Linked DNA regions of Homo sapiens: region 2 is linked to region 1. Evidence: fine-mapped expression QTL. A gene starts in region 1. The other region holds a variant in brackets. All regions are shown on one strand. Distances are between the middles of the regions. Region 1 holds the start of P2RY14 (purinergic receptor P2Y14). Region 2 overlaps CLRN1-AS1 (CLRN1 antisense RNA 1).

What was found. PIP is the estimated chance that this variant, and not a neighbour inherited with it, causes the effect.
Region 2: its variant is fine-mapped to the expression of P2RY14 in whole blood (INTERVAL, PIP above 0.99). The same link has a PIP of 0.9 or more in neutrophils.

What each region holds. Positions count from the first base shown.
Region 1 is chr3:151,274,969-151,283,630 of GRCh38, forward strand. P2RY14 (purinergic receptor P2Y14) reads right to left here and starts at 3,574. Exons shown (of 3, transcript NM_014879.4): 1 at 3,319-3,574. All of the region lies in intron 16 of MED12L (mediator complex subunit 12L), which reads left to right.
Region 2 is chr3:150,986,218-150,994,901 of GRCh38, forward strand. All of the region lies in intron 1 of CLRN1-AS1 (CLRN1 antisense RNA 1), which reads left to right. Among named protein-coding and RNA genes, the nearest start is that of CLRN1, 18 kb to the left of the region's middle. The variant A/G (reference allele first, on the strand shown) is at 3,800.

The DNA of each region.
Region 1 (8,662 bases):
AATGTTCTTAGATGAAACCTTGTGTGAGCTCTCCTACCAACCTTTGACCTTAGGGCTCGACTCACTGGGAAGATCACATCAGCAACAGGTGAGTTCTTTCCAGCCAGGTGTCTCTCCCACTATAGAAGGTGGCACATTTCCCATCTGCTTGGTATAAATGGCTCCTAGAGTCTAGAGGCTATAAGTGATGTGATGAAAATAATTGCGTGTGTATGATCCTGGAGAGTATCGAGGATCAGATTTTTTTCCCCAAGTGATCACACCACAAGTGTACAGATCGCTTTGGGCCAACCTCAGAAGCCAACTAACTGATCTTTTCCTCTTTTCTTTGGTATCTTAACCTCAAAAGCAGATGTCATATAATTGGGTAGAAGCCAGCACCCGTCCCTGGCTGTTCTTTTATTTGAATGATGAGGGGTCAGAACATGATATCTAAGGCCTTTGATGCTTTTCAAAAACAACAGATGGGAGGTTTCAGTGAAAAATAAAAAGCTAGCAATTTAATTTATACCGAGTAAAGACAAAAATTTCAAAGGAATCTAATCAGATCTAAAAGCATATGACCAGTATTTCACTTTGACTTTAAAGAACAGGTGGATTGAGAAGCTTTGCTGTGGTAAACTTGGTGTTTCGGTGAATTAATGTAACCAAATGATTACTATAAAAATAGCATTCATTAATTACTAGATTTATCCTTTTTAAGGGTGCTAGGGAGGAAAAGAAAATTCCCTGTAAAGAAGAACCAGAAAATTTAGTAAAGAGGGTTTTGGAGACCTGATTCTCATGCTACTTAGGAAGCTGAGAATTTAAAATAGATTTTACATAGTTTGGTTGTAGGTATTTTTTCTCATTAAGATAGGATATTTTTACTGAAGTTGATTTATCTAGCTGTGCTGCTCAGACTTTTAGGAGGCAATGCATCTTTTAGTATTGCGGGGTGATGGTGGGGAGGCTATGGGTGTAGCACCAGACTTGAAGCTAATTTGAAATCCCAAGTAGTAGACAGCATCTGGCCAATGAAATGCCTTCTTAGCATCCAGTATGAACTGGCAGGGTGATCATATTGATGATCATAATTAATTTATTATACAATCAAGGACACTTTTGAGATAGAAAGGAGGCACTATTTTCAATTATGCCCAGACAACAGGTGAAAACTGGATCTGTCCCAGGACATGGGGTCACCCAAAACTGAATGTGCAACAGAATTACCTGGAGGGCTTGTTAAAAGAGATTGCTGGGCTCCACCCCCATTGTTTCTGATTCTGTAGGTTTGGGGTCAATAATTTGCATGTCTGACAAGCTCACTGGTGATGTTGATTCAGCTGGTATAGTATCTGCACTTTGAGATCCACTGCTCTATCCAAACAAACTTGGCACTCTTGTACTGATATAATTTTCAATTAAAGGAAACACTCCTTATTGTCCATCATCCTCCACTAGACAGCCTTCTGCAGGTGAGGATGCTCATGATGATGGCAGAATATGCTTGTGTTGGTGTCAGCCTACCTCCTGGACTGGTCTGTTTTTGGTATTCTAGAGACTGCTCACACTGGGAGGTTGAAACAGCTCACTTGTGACCGACCTAACTTCTAAGGATATCCTGGGGCCAAATGGAATAAACCTGTGACTTCTGAGTTCATAGAGCCTTAGGCTTAGGGAAGCCTCAACATCTAAATTCACTCAGAAGCACTTTATAGAGTGAACGTTCTTCTAGGGAGCCGTGTTCTTCTTCTGTTCAGCACTTTAGAAGCATCATAGGTGGCCTTGCTCAGGATAGTCACACCCTCTGTACCTGCTTCAACTGTGAAGTGGGCACCGTAATACTTCAGGAAATTATACTTCTTCCTCTGCACCCGGCCCACTTCCCCTGTGTCTTCATGCTTTGAGTACCTTGGAATCTCCCCACTGTTCTTTTGGTTTTATTTTTGTTTGTTTTTGTTTTTGAGACAGGGTCTCACTCTCTCGCCCAGACTGGAGTGCAGTGGCCCGATCTCAGCTCACCACAACCTCTGGCTCCCAGACTCAAGCGATTCTCCTGCCTCAGCCTCCTGAGTACCTGGGATTACAGGCATGCACCACTACCACCCAGCTAATTTTTGTATTTTTAGTGGAGATAGGGGTTTTACCACGTTGGCCAGGCTGGTCTTGAACTCCTGACCAGCCTCTCCTGAGGCCACTCACCTTGGCCTCACAAAGTGCTGGGATTACAGGTGTGAGCCACCATGCCTGGCCTCCTTGTTTTTTTTTTTTCCAGACATGACAATATAGAGTTCATTCATATATACCAATGTGTTAATTGTGTGCACACAATTGTATGCATGTTTGTATATATAGTATTCATAAATTTTACCGAAATATAAAATTCATTGCATGTTTACAAATCATAAAATATGCCATTTTGGTATTTTCCGAGTGCATTGTTTTCTTTTTAACTTAATGGCTAGGTTTTTTTTTAGTGCTAAAACTGATTATCAAGTTTGTATGTTTTAGAAAGATGAATATACAAACTATTTATTTTTTTACTAGTGTGATCTTTGATTCATTTTCTCCGTAGGATTGATTGTCCTTGGTTAACAAAGTATATGTAGACAAGATGGATTGCATGGGCTTGGTTGAATAAGCTGACATTGTGGGTCTGTGCTAATTCTCCTGAATGTAATTTAATTTATAATGTTTAAAGAATTGTAAGTAATTTAGCTGATTAGTCATAGACTATAAATAAGTAGCATATGAACTCAAATATTTGCTATGCCTAGGACAGATATTTCTGTGATTTACAATTTAAAGGCATTTTATTTTAGTAGGTGTTAATGGGGTTAACTTATCCTAATAATGACAAAGATAAAAACTTTTACCTATATAAGTGTATGTACAAGTAAATGCAACTATATATCTGTACACATATGCAATTGCAAACAAAGACATACTGACCTAAGTATTATGCTAATCGATTTTGTAGTTTTGAGAAGCAATTTTAATACACATTTACGAGCTTTTGAAATGTTTGTCCTGGATGAATACCTTTTAAACATTTTCCTTGATATCTCTTCATCACAGATATATTTTGACAGCCACGATTGGAAATCCTAAATCATAAATGATAATATTTCAGTATTGGATCCCCATATTAGCATGGGGAAATATATTAATATACCAATTATAGTTGTCAAACAAAAAGTAACCTACTGAGAAAAATGTGAGTGGCAATGGTTCAGTGTTCCTCAGCTTTGTTGCTGCCCAGCTCAGAAATCTTTTCTGTTCCCATGCACCATTCACATACATGCAAGTCATTTCATGGAAAAGCTGTTTTCTTACCTGCGTCTAGGCCTTCATCTGTGAGAGTCATGCTTCACTCATTTTGAAATACCTCTCATTGTAGGCTCCAAGGTAACACTGTTACAGAGTTCTTGCTCATCTTCAACTACGGATGAAAATCAGGAACTTGACAGAAACCACAAGATAGTGGGTCCCTCTGCTGCTGTTGTCAGATAGAATTTATTGAAGACTGGGACGTGGAAACAAAGAGGAAGGAAGAGACGTTTTAATCTCTGTGGGTGTTAGGCTGACTTCTGAGCTAGTTCCTTTCCTCCAGTAATGCAAAAACAGTCCTGCTTTCTTATTTCTCCTCCTACTTTTCCCCACATCCCTACATCATCTGATGCACAGCCAGGCAAAAACCTGTTTTCTTTTCTAACCTTTGCCATTGTCAAATTCAACATGTGGTATGAGGTGGAGAACTGATGTGTAAGATATGGTTCTTTCTGAAGCACCCTCAGAAAATTGTCAGCAGCTTCACAGTATAACGTGCAGAGATGGGTAGTTGGAGCTACCTGGAAATGCGGAATTAACAGAATAAAGAAGTATTTTGACACCAATGTCGACATATTCTAGATAAGAGGTGTTGCATTGTCATTTTTCCCACATTAATTTTCCCATATTTGAACATTACTGATAAATAGATCACAAGTAGGACTTCAGATAAACTCCTCGTGTGTTAACATTTTGGTGTTTGTGCTGTGTTACTATTTTGAAAGTCTTCATATTTTTAGTTCCTTTCAGGCTCTGTAATATAATTGGTGATGTCCTGCAGTGCTCCACTGTCTTTCCCATTGACTATTAGTGCCATTAGATTTGGAAGTTTTCAGAAGATGGCTACAAAGTCCTCTTCAAAGTGTATAACTCAGAACCAGAAAGAAAGAAGACAAGGGGCTGAAAAGCTTACTTTATAAGGTTCCTGCATTTTAAGTGTATTTACTTAGGCTGTTCCATTGCCAAATTATGGGTAACAACTAGTAAAGTTCAGCTTGCCTTAAAAACATAGCTATACATTTAGTTATAATAATTATAACTGGCTTATGACATGCCCGTTACTATTCTAGTTGCTTTATATGTACTTGCTACGTAGGAGGCAGTGTTCTGGACATTGGAGATGGAGTAGTGACTGACACATACCCAAACAGTTATTTCCCTCATGAAGAGTATTTTCTTACTTTCTGTCTCACAGACTTGCTAGTCACTGTTGATCCTTGGCAAAGACCTGTGAGACACAGAGCTTGTTTAGAGAAGTTCGCCATTTCTCCCTGCCAGAGGGACTCTTCTTCAGACCCCCAGCGGGCCCCAATAGTCCTCACTGATGCTTTGATTGAGGGGCTAAGAATACTGATGTGCATAGAGAGGCTTGTTAGCTTCAGCTGCAGTGAGATCTGGTAGGTAAATAAACTTAAGGACAAGTGGATGTGAGGAGGAGCCGCTAGAGCCTGGTTATTACCAGGGCACATTGCAGAGTCCTCCAGATGTAAACATTTTGCTGATTAAATTGATGATTTGGCAGGAACCGTATCTCTAAGGTGCGACTCTCAAGACTTCCCTGATTTATTGCAGGAGATGCTGTTTACTCTGACAGTCTCAAAAACACCCATTAATTGTTCCGGGTCCCTTTTGTGCTTCTTGACTTCCCCGTGGGGTGTTTCACATAGATGTTATTGAGTATGACTGGGGAGAACATGATAATTTGTTGCTTCTTGACTTCCCCGTGGGGTGTTTCACATAGATGTTATTGAGTATGACTGGGGAGAACATGATAATTTCTTTGACTGGAGCTGCTTGCTTGCCTCTTAATGCCAGGAGTTGCAAAGTCCAAGGCCAAAAGGATAGCCCTACAGGTGGTCCCCTCGTGGCAGGTGGTACAAATGGGTTGGACTCTGTGTAAGACACTTGGGAGTAGAGGGAGTATGGAGAAATGGAAAGCTAAAGGGCCCACCCAGGGGGACAGTTGTGTCTGGAAGCTTGCCAGAGTCATGGGCCTCATCTTGGGATGGGCCAGTGTCTTCAGAACATTAAACGCTGATTTGCATGTACTGTTCTAAACACTCTGTGTGTTTTAGCTTGATTACTCACAATGGCTCCATGAGTAAAGTAGGTCTGTCTACTACTTCTTCCCCACCTTTTTCTTAATAGACAAGGAAACTGAGGCATGGAGATGTTACATCAGGTTGCTGGAGCTGGGCAGATCCTGGAGCCTGTGCACTGCTACTGCCTTTATATGTCTCCTCTGATTTCATTTGTTGGTGTCTAAATCGAATACCTTACAAACCAGTGTAGACCTGATACCCTGTGGGCTAAAACAAAACCTGAGTGTGCACTGTATTGGGCTTGTGAGCAGTCAGCTTGTGACCTCTGTTCTGTGGTTTTATTGGCACGTAGCAGTACAAGGATGGTGAGGGGTGGGTAGGGGGCAGACAGCTAGGCACTTGAAAGGAAAGCTCATCTGGAAAGATTGGATCGTCTCAAATGCACATACTCGTACACTCGATTGAAGCGTACTCTGTGCCTACTAGATCTTTTCACAGCCAAAACACCTGGCAACCCTTGGAGAAGTAACTATTCCTTTTTTTCACAAGTAAGAAAATAGAGCCTCAGAAAATTTAACAGTTGTCTAAGCTAGAAAGTAGCAGGACTGGACTTTGAAGTAGTCTTTAGGTTGTGCTGTACATTTTGTGGATATGCTTAAATCACAGTTTAGCTTGTACACATTTTCCTTTATTAGAATTGGAAGTAAGTATTAATGTTTGAAAAAATATTTTAGCCTGACAATATTTATTCTATCTTCATATGTTTTTGAAATTAGATATTTTAAACTAGGCACGGTGGCTCACGCATGTAATCTCAGCAGTTTGGGAGGCCGAGGCAGGCAGGTCACAAGGTCAGGAGCTCCAGACCAGCCTGACCGACATGGTGAAACCCTATCTCTACCAAAAATACAAAAAAAAAAAAAAAAAAAAAAAAAAAGTTAGCTGGGCATGGTGGAGTTCGCCTGTGATCCCAGCTGCTCAGGAGGCTGAGGCAGGAGAATCACTCGAACCCGGGAGGTGGAAGTTGCAGTGAGCTGAGATTGCGCCACTGTACTTCAGCCTGGGCAACAGAGTGAGACTCTGTCTCAAAATAAATAAATAAAAAATAAAAAGATATTTTATTATGACTTTTAGCAACGTAGGTAATGACTCTTTTCAACACTAGACACCAGGCATAATACAACATAGCCAATAACGACATTATAATTAAAATAATAGAGGGCCTGGTCCTTGTGTGCAAGAATCTTTTAAAAAACAAAATCTAAAATAGTCAATATTTTCCTTTTATCTGTGGTGTTTTGATTTATGCTAAATAGTTCTGAATTCCCATTTCCTTTGGTGGAATCCTAAGATTAAAGTACTGTGATTTCCTCCTGACTAATCTTTTTCTCAGAGCCCTCAACATAACCCTGATATGACAACCACCCCTAGCCCACCCCACGTGCTCACACATTCTCCAATACCATTTAGAGACAGGACTCTGCCTTATTAGTAATAGGACTGGTTATATATAAACATCCCTTGTGTATTCATACTACAAATAGAATGAGTTTAACACACGTAATCCCCAAATATGTCTGTAACTGTTTCCAGTCAGTTTCTATCCAGGCCGTCATCGACTGCGCATAAATAGCTGGCTGGCTTACATTTTGATTCCATAAATGTCCTATTTTGCTCCTTACCCCGGAATTCACCTATGCATAATTGTTACCATATGTCTTTTGAAATCATTTTTCTTTAAAGTAAGTACAGAGACAACTTCATTGTTACTGCCCTTCCCCTGCCTTTCCCTGGTTGCTTTATTGAGCATAGTGAGTAAGACACTAGCGCATCCGGCCTCATCCCCACTTGCTCTCTTGGAGACTTGTTCATGTGAGCCCTGTATAGACCTTATTCTTTTTCGTAGCTTTGTAGTATTCCATAATTTGTTTAATCAGTACCTATTGATGGATTTTCAGATAAATATGAACATTTTCAATGAATTTATTTTAACCATAGCAGATATTTGCTGGGTTATATAATTTAGTTTTTTTTTGTTTTTTTTTGTTTGTTTGTTTGTTTTGCTGGCAAGTTATTTATAATTGTGTGTGTGTGTTTTGTATGTGTTGGGGGGCATGGCTGCCGAAAGGATTCCACTGGTTGTTGAGAAAGATGTTGACGTAAGAATGTAGAGGATTTTAGTAAAGGCCCGGTGTAAACATTTTATGAAAGTACAGTGTACAAGGATATTTAAAGGAAGCATATTTGGAAATTGTCCTCTATAGGATCTCTGAAGGAACTAGCATCCAAAATGCTTCTTGTTGGATGGCTCTTTTACTTGTAGAATGGGGGTGAAAGTCAACTTAGTACTGTATTAAAAGAATGATGTGAGCCAAGGTTTAATGTTAGGAAAGCCAGCAAAGGTGGAGGAGCGCGTAATGTCGGGGATCCAAAATGTCACGCTCAGGACTTCCTAATTTAGTGTGCTGTAAAGTTTTTGAGCTTTGTAGTAAAATAATTGAAAAAGTGTTTTGAAAAAATTGTAATCTGATAGGAAAACATTGAATGCAGACATGCCTTTTTATGTTTCCCTATGTGAAGCATTCAGTTCTACCAGCTTGTTGATTTAGAGTAGTGGAGAAAGGGGGCAGAAATTACATCATTAAGATGTGAGATAAGTCACCACATTATAAAATAATGCCTTTTTGTTAAACCTCTTGCAATGAATGACAGGACATGGGACTTCATTGGCAATTGTGCACTTGCCTTCATCTGAGAATTACAATGGAGAAACAAATGCCTGGTACAATATCACCCCCTTCTGGTAGATTGAAAGAAGTAACAGTTTTTAAAAAAATTAATAGGTGCAATTTGTACATGTATTGTAGGCAGTTCACAAAACCTCACTTTGGTGTGGATACTAACGTTGAGTCATGGTTGATTGTCTAATCCCAATTAGTTGAAGTGTGCAAACAGATTTTCTGTATTGCTAGCATTAGATTGGGTTTAAATCTTGAAAATCAGAAGGACTGAATCTCGACTGATGTTAGCAAAGAATCAGAATTTAGAACTTTGTTACAAAACAAAAACTTTTGTATGTGTATTTTCTCTTTTCAGTATTTTTTTTGGAAAGATGCTGAGGAAGCAGAGGAAAGCATTTTCTTTTTCACCTTGAGGTCTCACAAATGTGTCATCTCTGATTATCTTCCTGTTGTTCCCATTTGCTTGCAAGACTCACCACGTCTTTAGACATGTCCCTAATACCTCAGTGTTGTCATTATTCTTCTGATGTGGCCTGTGTTTCTGTATCATGCCTAGCCGTCCTTGCT
Region 2 (8,684 bases), 290 kb before region 1:
TGTACCCTGCATGAATAAGGGGAGACTAATTTTTAGCTATAAATTTTCCTCTTTTCAATGTGTCCCATAAGTTTTGATATGTTGTATTTTATTTTCATTTGTCTCTAAGTACTTTCTAATTTCCCTTGTGATTTCATCTTTGATCTATTGATTAAGAGTATTGTGTTTAATTTCCACAAATATTTGAAGTTTCCACCTTTTTTAAATTATTGATTTCTAACTTTATCCCTTGTAGTCAATGAAGATACTTTGCATGACATCTACCTGTTTAATTCTATTGAGACTTGAGACTTAACTTGTGGCCTATTCTATATTCTATCCTGGAAAATGTCACATGTGCACTTGAGAAGAATATGTATGCTTGTATTTGGGGGTAAAGTGTTCTATATATGTCTGTTTCATCTAGTTGGTGTATTGTGTTGTTTAAGTCCTCTACTTCCTTACTTGTTTTCTGCCTGGTTGTTCTATCCATTACTGAGAGTGGGATATTGAAGTATCTGACTATTATTGTACAACTGTCTATTTCTCCATTCAGTTGGATTAGTTTTTGCTTCATATATTTTGATAGTTTATTATTAGATATGTATAAAGGTTTATAATTGTTATCTTTCCTTGCTGTATTGAACCTTTTATTAAAATGTTATGTCCTTCTTTGACCCCTGTAATGTTTTTGTATTTAAAACCTATTCTGTCTGATATTACTATCACTGCTTCTGCTCTCTTTTGGTTACTATTTGCATGAAATATCTTTTTCCATCTGTTCACTTTCAATCCATGTCTTTTTCAATCTATTTGATCTAAAGTGAGTGTCTTATAAACAGCATATAGTTTAATTATGTGTTTTTTTATCTAGTCTGCCAATCTTTCTTTTGATTGGAGAGTTTAATCTATTTATATTTATATTAATCACTGCTAAGAAAGAACTTAGTTGTGTCATTTGACTATTTGTTTTTAACATACCTTGTAAGATTTTTGTCCCTCATTTCCTGCATTATTGTCTTCTGTTATGTTTCATCGGTTTTTTTTGTAGTTAAATGTTTAACTTATTTTCTCATTTTCTTTTGTGTATATTCTATAACTATATTCTTTGTAGTTACTATAGGAATTACACTTAATACAGTAAAGTTATAATACTCTAATTTGAACTTATACCAGCTTAACTTGAATAATAAAGAAAAAATCTACTTTTTTACAGCCTCATCCCTACCTCTTTTAGTTGCTGATGTCACAAAATTACATCTTTTTCTATTGCATATGCCAAAATATATGCTAGTAACATTTTAAATACATTAGTTTCTTAAATTACATAGAAAATAGAATGTGGAGTTACAAACCAAAGTTACAAAAATCCTAGCTTTTAAACTAATAATTGTTTTTTTCAATGTGTTAGTCTCTTAAACCATATAGAAAACAAAAGGTAGTATTACAAACTGTTGTTATGATAATATTGACTTTTATAATTGCATGCGTGTGTACCTTTATTGAGATTCTTATTTATTTATAAGATTGTGAGTTACTGTCTAGTGTCCTTTTATTTTACCGTGCCTTACTCCCTTGAACATGTCTTACAGGGCAGGGCTAGTGATGACAAACTCCCTCATCTTTTGTTTTATCTGGGAATATCTTAATTTCTCCTTCACTTTGAAGGACAGTTTTGCCAGATATAGGAATCTTGGTTGACAGTTTTTTTTCTTTTCTTTTCGAACTTTGGATATATCAGCCTTTTAGCCTCCAAAGCTTCTGATGAGAAATCTGCTGATAATCTTATTGAAGATTTCTTGCATATGATGAATTATTTCTCTCTTTCTGCTTTCATGAGTCCCTCTTTGTCTTTTGAAAGTTTGATTATATATAATCTGTCTCTGTGTGAGTCTCTTTGAGTTTATTTTACTTGGAGTTATTTGAACTCCTTGGCATTTATGTTTATATTCTTCATCATATTTGTAAAGTTTCCACCATTATTTCTTTAACTGTTTCCTCTACCCTCTTCTCCTTTTCTCACAGTATGTATATTGGTGGTGTTCAACAGGCCCCTTAGGCTCTGCTCACTTTTTGTTAATCTTTTTTCTTTCTGTTTCTCAGACATGATCATTTCCATTGTTCTATGTTCAGGTTCATAGACTCTTTCTTTAACCTGCTCAAATCTGCCTTTGAATCCTTCTAGTGAATTTTTATTTCACTTATTGTACATTTCAGCTCCAGAATTTCTTATTGGTTTCTTTGTAGGTTTTCTGTTTCTTTATGGCTATTTCCACTTTGTTCAAATATTGTCTTCTTGACTTTCTCCATATCTCCCTTTAATTATTTGGGCATCTTTAAGACAATAATTTTAAGGGTTTTTGTCAACTAGATCTACCATCAGAATTATTTATTTATTTATTTATTTATTTATTTATTTAGAGACAGAGTCTCACTCTGTCACCCAGGCTGGAGTACAGTGGCATGATCTCAGCTCACTGCAACCTCCACCTCCTGGGTTCAAGGGATTCTCGTGTTTCAGCCTCCCAAGTAGCTGGGACTAGAGGTGTGCACCAGCACACCTGGCTAAGTTTTGTATTTTTAGTAGAGATGGGGTTTCACCATGTTGACCAGGCTGGTCTCGAACTCCTGGCCTCAAGTGATCTGCCTGCCTCGACCTCCCAAAGTGCTGGGATTACAGGCATGAGGCACTGTGCCCAGAGACCATCAGATCTTTTTCAGGGGCTGTTTTGTTTATTTATTTCTTCCTTTGAATGGACTATATTTTCCTGTTTCTTTGTGTATGCCTTATAATTTTTTTTATCAAAAACCAGACATTTAAATCTAATAATGCAGTAACTCTGGAAATCATATTCTTTCCCTTTCCCAGGTTATACTATTTTCATTTTTTTTTATTTTTTTAAAAATTGTTTTAGGTAGGTTGTTTCTGCGCCAAGGATAAGCCTGAGGTGTAAAATTAAGGTCTTCTCAGGTCTTTTCTGAGCCTGTCTTTCTCTGGGCATGAACATTTGTTCTAATTGCTAATGTATATGCAGTTGCTTTTGAATGTCCTAGTCTTCAATGTCTGCCTCCCAAAAGGGAAAAAAGAGAAAACTAAGGATGTGGAGAGTGGTGCCAGCCATTTACTCCTTTGGAAGTCACTTCAGCTGGACAGGGAGGGGCTTGCCACAGTGGGAGAGATGCAGCAACAATGGCCAACTATGTGTTTGTCTGCGCCTCTGTGATCAGAAGCTGCAATCAGTGATGGCTGGGCACAGTGGCTCATGCCTGTAATCTGAGTACTTTGGGAAGCTGAGATGGGAGGATCCGTTGGGGCCAGTAGTTCAAGACCAGCCTAGGCAACATAGTGAGACCTTGTCTCTAAAAGAATTTTAAAAATTAGCTGGGTGTGTTGGTACATGCTTGTAGTCCTAGCTACTTGGGAGGCTGAAGTGGGAGAATTTCCTGAGCCCAGAGGTTCCAGGCTGCAGTGAGTTATGATCGCACAACTGTGCTCCAGCCTGGGTGATGGAGCAAGACCTGGTTTAAAAAAAAAAAAAAAATCCACACACAGGTTATTCAAAACAAAACAAAACAAACAAAAAACAGAAGAAGAAGCTGCAATCAGTGAGCAGAGCACAAATGCACAAATCCCCAGCATTTGGAGGTCAGGGTCCCCTGGCTCCCACAAACTGTGTAAAAGCTGCTTCGGGAACAAGTACATACCTGCATACCATGGGGCTGGGGGTGAAGGAAGGATAGCTGCTACTGCAGTAAGAGCTGAAATTGACCACAGTTAACCACAATTTACTAAGCCTTCCCTAGACATTGCAAATTTTCA[A/G]CAGACTCCAGAGTTCCTCAATAGCTACATCCGACAGATTTTGCCAGTGAAATTGTTTCTAGGTGGGCAGACAAATTCCTGTTGCTTCCTACTTTGTCATCTTCCCAGAATGCCCTCCTTGCACAAAAGTTTTTGAAACCACTGAATCTTTTGTCACCTCCAAACAACACCCTAAATAAGCAGATCTTTAGTCTCCAATAATTCTAAAAGTCAGGAGTAGTCATATGTTTAAAATGAGTGATAATAATGTGCTGTGAGGATGAAATGGAATAATATAAATACCTTGAAATAGTGCTTAGCATATAATAAATGCTTAATAAATGTTAGCTATTCTTTATTATAATAATTTTTATTTAAATTATAATTACTTTCTGAACTGGGGAGATGCCTCACCAGAAACAGTTAAAATATCAAGGATGTTTTAAGAAAACTGCTGGACCAAGAATTAACACTTGCTACATATTGGTTCCTATTTTTATACCAAATTTTAAAACATTAAACATAAGACTTAAATTTTTGACAATTTCTTGCTCAATATCCTAGTATGCTTAGTTACCATTCTAATATATCTTTTCACACAGGTTCTCTCTGAAATACTTAACTTTAGAAAGATTTATAGTTCTTAAGTGGGGCTATTTTATTCCATTTTAGTCCTTGGTAGTAACTTCCAACCAATGAATTCCCTGTAGGAATACTCACAATTTAGTGTATGCAATATGATTAATTTTAGCTCCAGAAAAAAGGCAGACATTTTTTCTTTGAAAATTTGAGCGGCTTTAATGTATTGTGAGTATGCATGTAGGATCTCATTCAACTGCAGTTTCTTATCTCATCAAAGTTATCTCCTCACATCCTTATGACATTTGCCTTATCTTTAATTTGTAGGAGTAATATTTTCCAGGTCAGAGGAGAGAGTAAATTTTCCATAGCTAATTTTCCAACTAAAAGCTGATGTACATACAGACACAATTCTGTTGGCATTTCCAGGGCATTGAATACCAAAGAAAATATATTTTATGATTATCTTGGGGGCATGAATGTACCTATATTATAGAAGAATTGGTAATAAAGAAGATTTATCAATTTAATTACTGGTGTGTTACACTTGGGCACCATGTAGCATTTTTTTGGTCCTACAAATAACTGTACTGAACAGGGCTGAATCTATGATGTAGCCCACAATGAACTCTCAGAGGTGTGGTTCCTGGAAGAAGCCTCATTGCTGAAACTATCCTCTTGCCCAAGGCTTTGCCCAACATTGTGATACACATGGTCAAGTGCAAACATCTTCTTTAGGAATTTCAAAGATTTGGCCGGATGTCTTTGCAGTAGAATTACTCTTTGAGTTTGAGAAACTAATTGAGTTCAGTATAGGCATGGAAAGACACTTGGAGGAATATGCCAAAATATTAATAGTGGCTATGCCTTGGGGAATGGCGTTGAATGTGAAGGAGAAAAACCAGAAGGGAACTTTCGCTTATTATTTCATCTGCTTCTGTATTATTGAACTGTTTATAACCTAAATGTATTAATTGCAGAAAAAAGGCAGCAGCCTTTACCAGCCACCTGGTCTCCCAGCTCAGAAACCAGGGAAGTAGGCACACCATTTCTTTTTCCTTCACTCCTCATGCCTGATCAGTAATTGAACTCTGTGGGTTTTCTTCCTAAATATCTCTCAAATGCATCCCTGTTCCCCGTTTTCACAGCTGTGCCTCAGCCCAGGCACTCAGGAACACTCCTCTGACTAACAAAAAGAGCCTCTGAACCGACTCCCTGCAACTCCACCCATCTCCCCTCAGCTTCTGAGAGGCACTACCACCACCACCTCCCCTCACTCCCCCACCTTCCCCACTGCAACTCCTACTCTGACCCAGAGCAAACCTGACCTGGTCACTGCCATGCTGAAAATCCCCCACCCAGATACTGATAATTGGGGAGGCTATACGTGTGGTTGGGAAGGAGGGTAGATGGGGAATCTCTGTACCTCCCTCTGAGTTTTGCTGTGAACCTAAAATTACTCTTAAAAAATAAAGTCTATTAAGAAAAATACCCCACCTAGCACTCCTACCCAGCTCTAACCTCTTCTCTACAGACTTTAAAAAATTTGATTTGTTTATAATTGCAAATCTGACCAAGAACACCCAAGACCCATAGAAAGAATCATTCCTCAGCCTGGCATAAAAAATCCTCATGATCAAAACTGCCCATCTTCCTAGCTTCACCTTCTCATACCCCTGTGTCCTCACCTGTGTGGTTTCTTCTTCCCGGATTTACCCCTCCCTGCTTTGGTTTCCTTTGAAAGTTTTTGCTCTTTCTTCTCTTTGAAGTCTTCCTGACACCTCTAGACAGAGATGGTTCCACCCTTTCTAAATGGCTGATTAGCCCATTATCATGCATTACGGTAATGATTTAACTCCTTTCTTCCTACACTATTGTTTTTTGAGAACAAAGAGCTTTATTTATTTTGCCTATATATTTATAGAGGCATACCTTGGAGATATTGCAAGTTTGATTCCAGAACACCACAATAAAGCAAATATCACAATACAGCAGGTCACACAAATTTTTTGGCTTCCCAGTGCATATAACAGTTATGTTTATACTATATTGTAGTCTATAAAGTATGCAATAGCATTATGTCTTAAAAAAGTTCAAACCATAAATAAAAACACTTTATTGCTAAAAAAAAAAAATGGTAACAATCATTACAGCCTTCAGCAAGTCATAATCTTTTTGCTGGTAGTGCGGCTTGCTTCAATGTTGATGGCTGCTGATTGATCAGGGTGGTGTTGCTGAAGGTGGGGTGGCTGTGGCAATTTCTTAAAATAAGACAGTAATGAAATTTGCCACATCCATTGACTCTTCCTTTTACGAAAGATTTCTCTGTAGGGTGCAATGTTGTTTGACAGCATTTTACTCCCCTTCAAAACTGCCATCAGTCCTCTCAAATCCTGCCACTGCTTTATGAACTAAGGTTACGGAATATTCTAAATCCTTTGTTGTCATTTCAACAGTGTTTGCAGCATCTTCATGAGGAGTAGATTCCACCTCAAGAAACCACTTTCCTTGCCCATTCATAAGAAGCAACTACTCATCCCATCCTTAAAGTTTTATCAGGAGATTGCAGCAATTCAGCTGCATCTTCAGGCTCTACTTCTAATTCTAGCTTTCTTGCTGTTTTCATCACATCTGCAGTTATTTCCTCCATGAAAGTCTTGAACCTCTCAAAGTCATCCATGAGGTTGGGAATCAACTTCTTCCAAACTTCTATATTAATATTTTGACCCCCTCCCATGAATCATGAATGTTTTTAATGGAATCTAGAATGGCAATTCCTTTCCAGAAGGGTTTCAATTTTCTTTGCCCACATCCATCAGAGGAATCACTGTGGCAGCTATCGCCTTATGAAATATTTTTCTTAAATAGTATGACTTGAAAGTCAAAATTACTCCTTGATCTATGGGTGGCAGAATGGATACTGTGTTAGCAGGCATGAGAACATTCATCTCCTCTACATCTCTATCAGAGCTCTTGGATGACTAGGTCCATTACAAATGAGCAGTAGTATTTTGAAAGCTTTTTTTCTGAGCAGTAGGTCTGAACAGTGGGCTTAAAATATTCAGTAAACCATGCAGTAAACAGATGTGCTCTCATCCTGGCTTTGTTGTTCCATTTATAGAGCACAGGAAGACTGGATTTTGCATAATTCTTAAGGGCCTTAGGATTTTCAAAATGGTAAATGAGCACAAGCTTCAACTTAAAGTCACCAGCTACGTTAGCCCTTTATAAAAGAGACGGCCTGCCCTTTGAAGAGAAGCTTTTTTTTTTTTTTTTTTTTTTTAGATGGAGTCTCACTCTTGCTCAGGCTGGAGTGCAGTGTCGTGATCTCATCTCACTGCAATCTCTGCCTCCCAGGTTCAAGTGATTCTCCTGCCTCAGCCTCCCTGAGTAGCTGGGATTACAGGTGCATGCCACCATGCCCGGCTAATTTTTTGTATTTTTAGTAGAGATGGGGTTTCACCATGTTGGCCAGGCTTGTCTCAAGCTCCTGACCTCAAGTGGTCCACCTGCCTCAGCCTCGCAAAATGTTAGGATTACAGGAATGTGCTACCACCCCTGGCCTGCCCTTTGAAACTTTGAAGCCAGGCCTTGACTTCTCCTCTCTAGCTATGAAAGCCCTACATGGCATTTTTTTTTTCCAACAGAAGGCTGTTTCATTTTCACTAAAAGTCTGTTATTCAGTTTAGTTACCTTCATCAATGATTGTAGTTAGATCTTCTGGATAACTTGCTGTAGCTTCCACATTAGCACTTCCTGCTTCACATTGCACTTTTATGTTCTAGAAATGGCTTCTTTCCTTAAACCTCATGAACCAGCCTCTGCTAGCTTTCAGCTTTTCTTCTGCAACTTCCTCACCTCTCTCAGCTTTTATAGAATTAAATAGAGTTAGGATTTTGCTCTGGATTAGGTTTTGGCTTAAAGGGAATATTGTGGCTGGTTTGATCTTCTATCCAGACCACTAAACAGCAATAAGACTGTTTCACTTTCTTATCATTTGTGTGTGAGCACATGTTGTTGGAAAAATGGCACCAATAGGCTTTCTCAAGGCAAGGTTGCCACAAGCCTTCAATTTGTAAACAACAAAATATCAGTGAAGCACAACAAAGCAAAGCACAATAAAATGAGGCATGCCTGTACTTTTTTTTAATGTAGCCAGCCCCAACATTTTCCATATGTAGTAAAAGAACATTCTCTATGTTCATGAATGCTTATGACAAATGAATGATAGAATGAATGAATAAATGAATGCAAAGAGCTCAGACTGGAAAGTAGCAGATATGTGATCTAGTTTTATTTCTGATACTCTGACTGGTTCTCTTTTTTC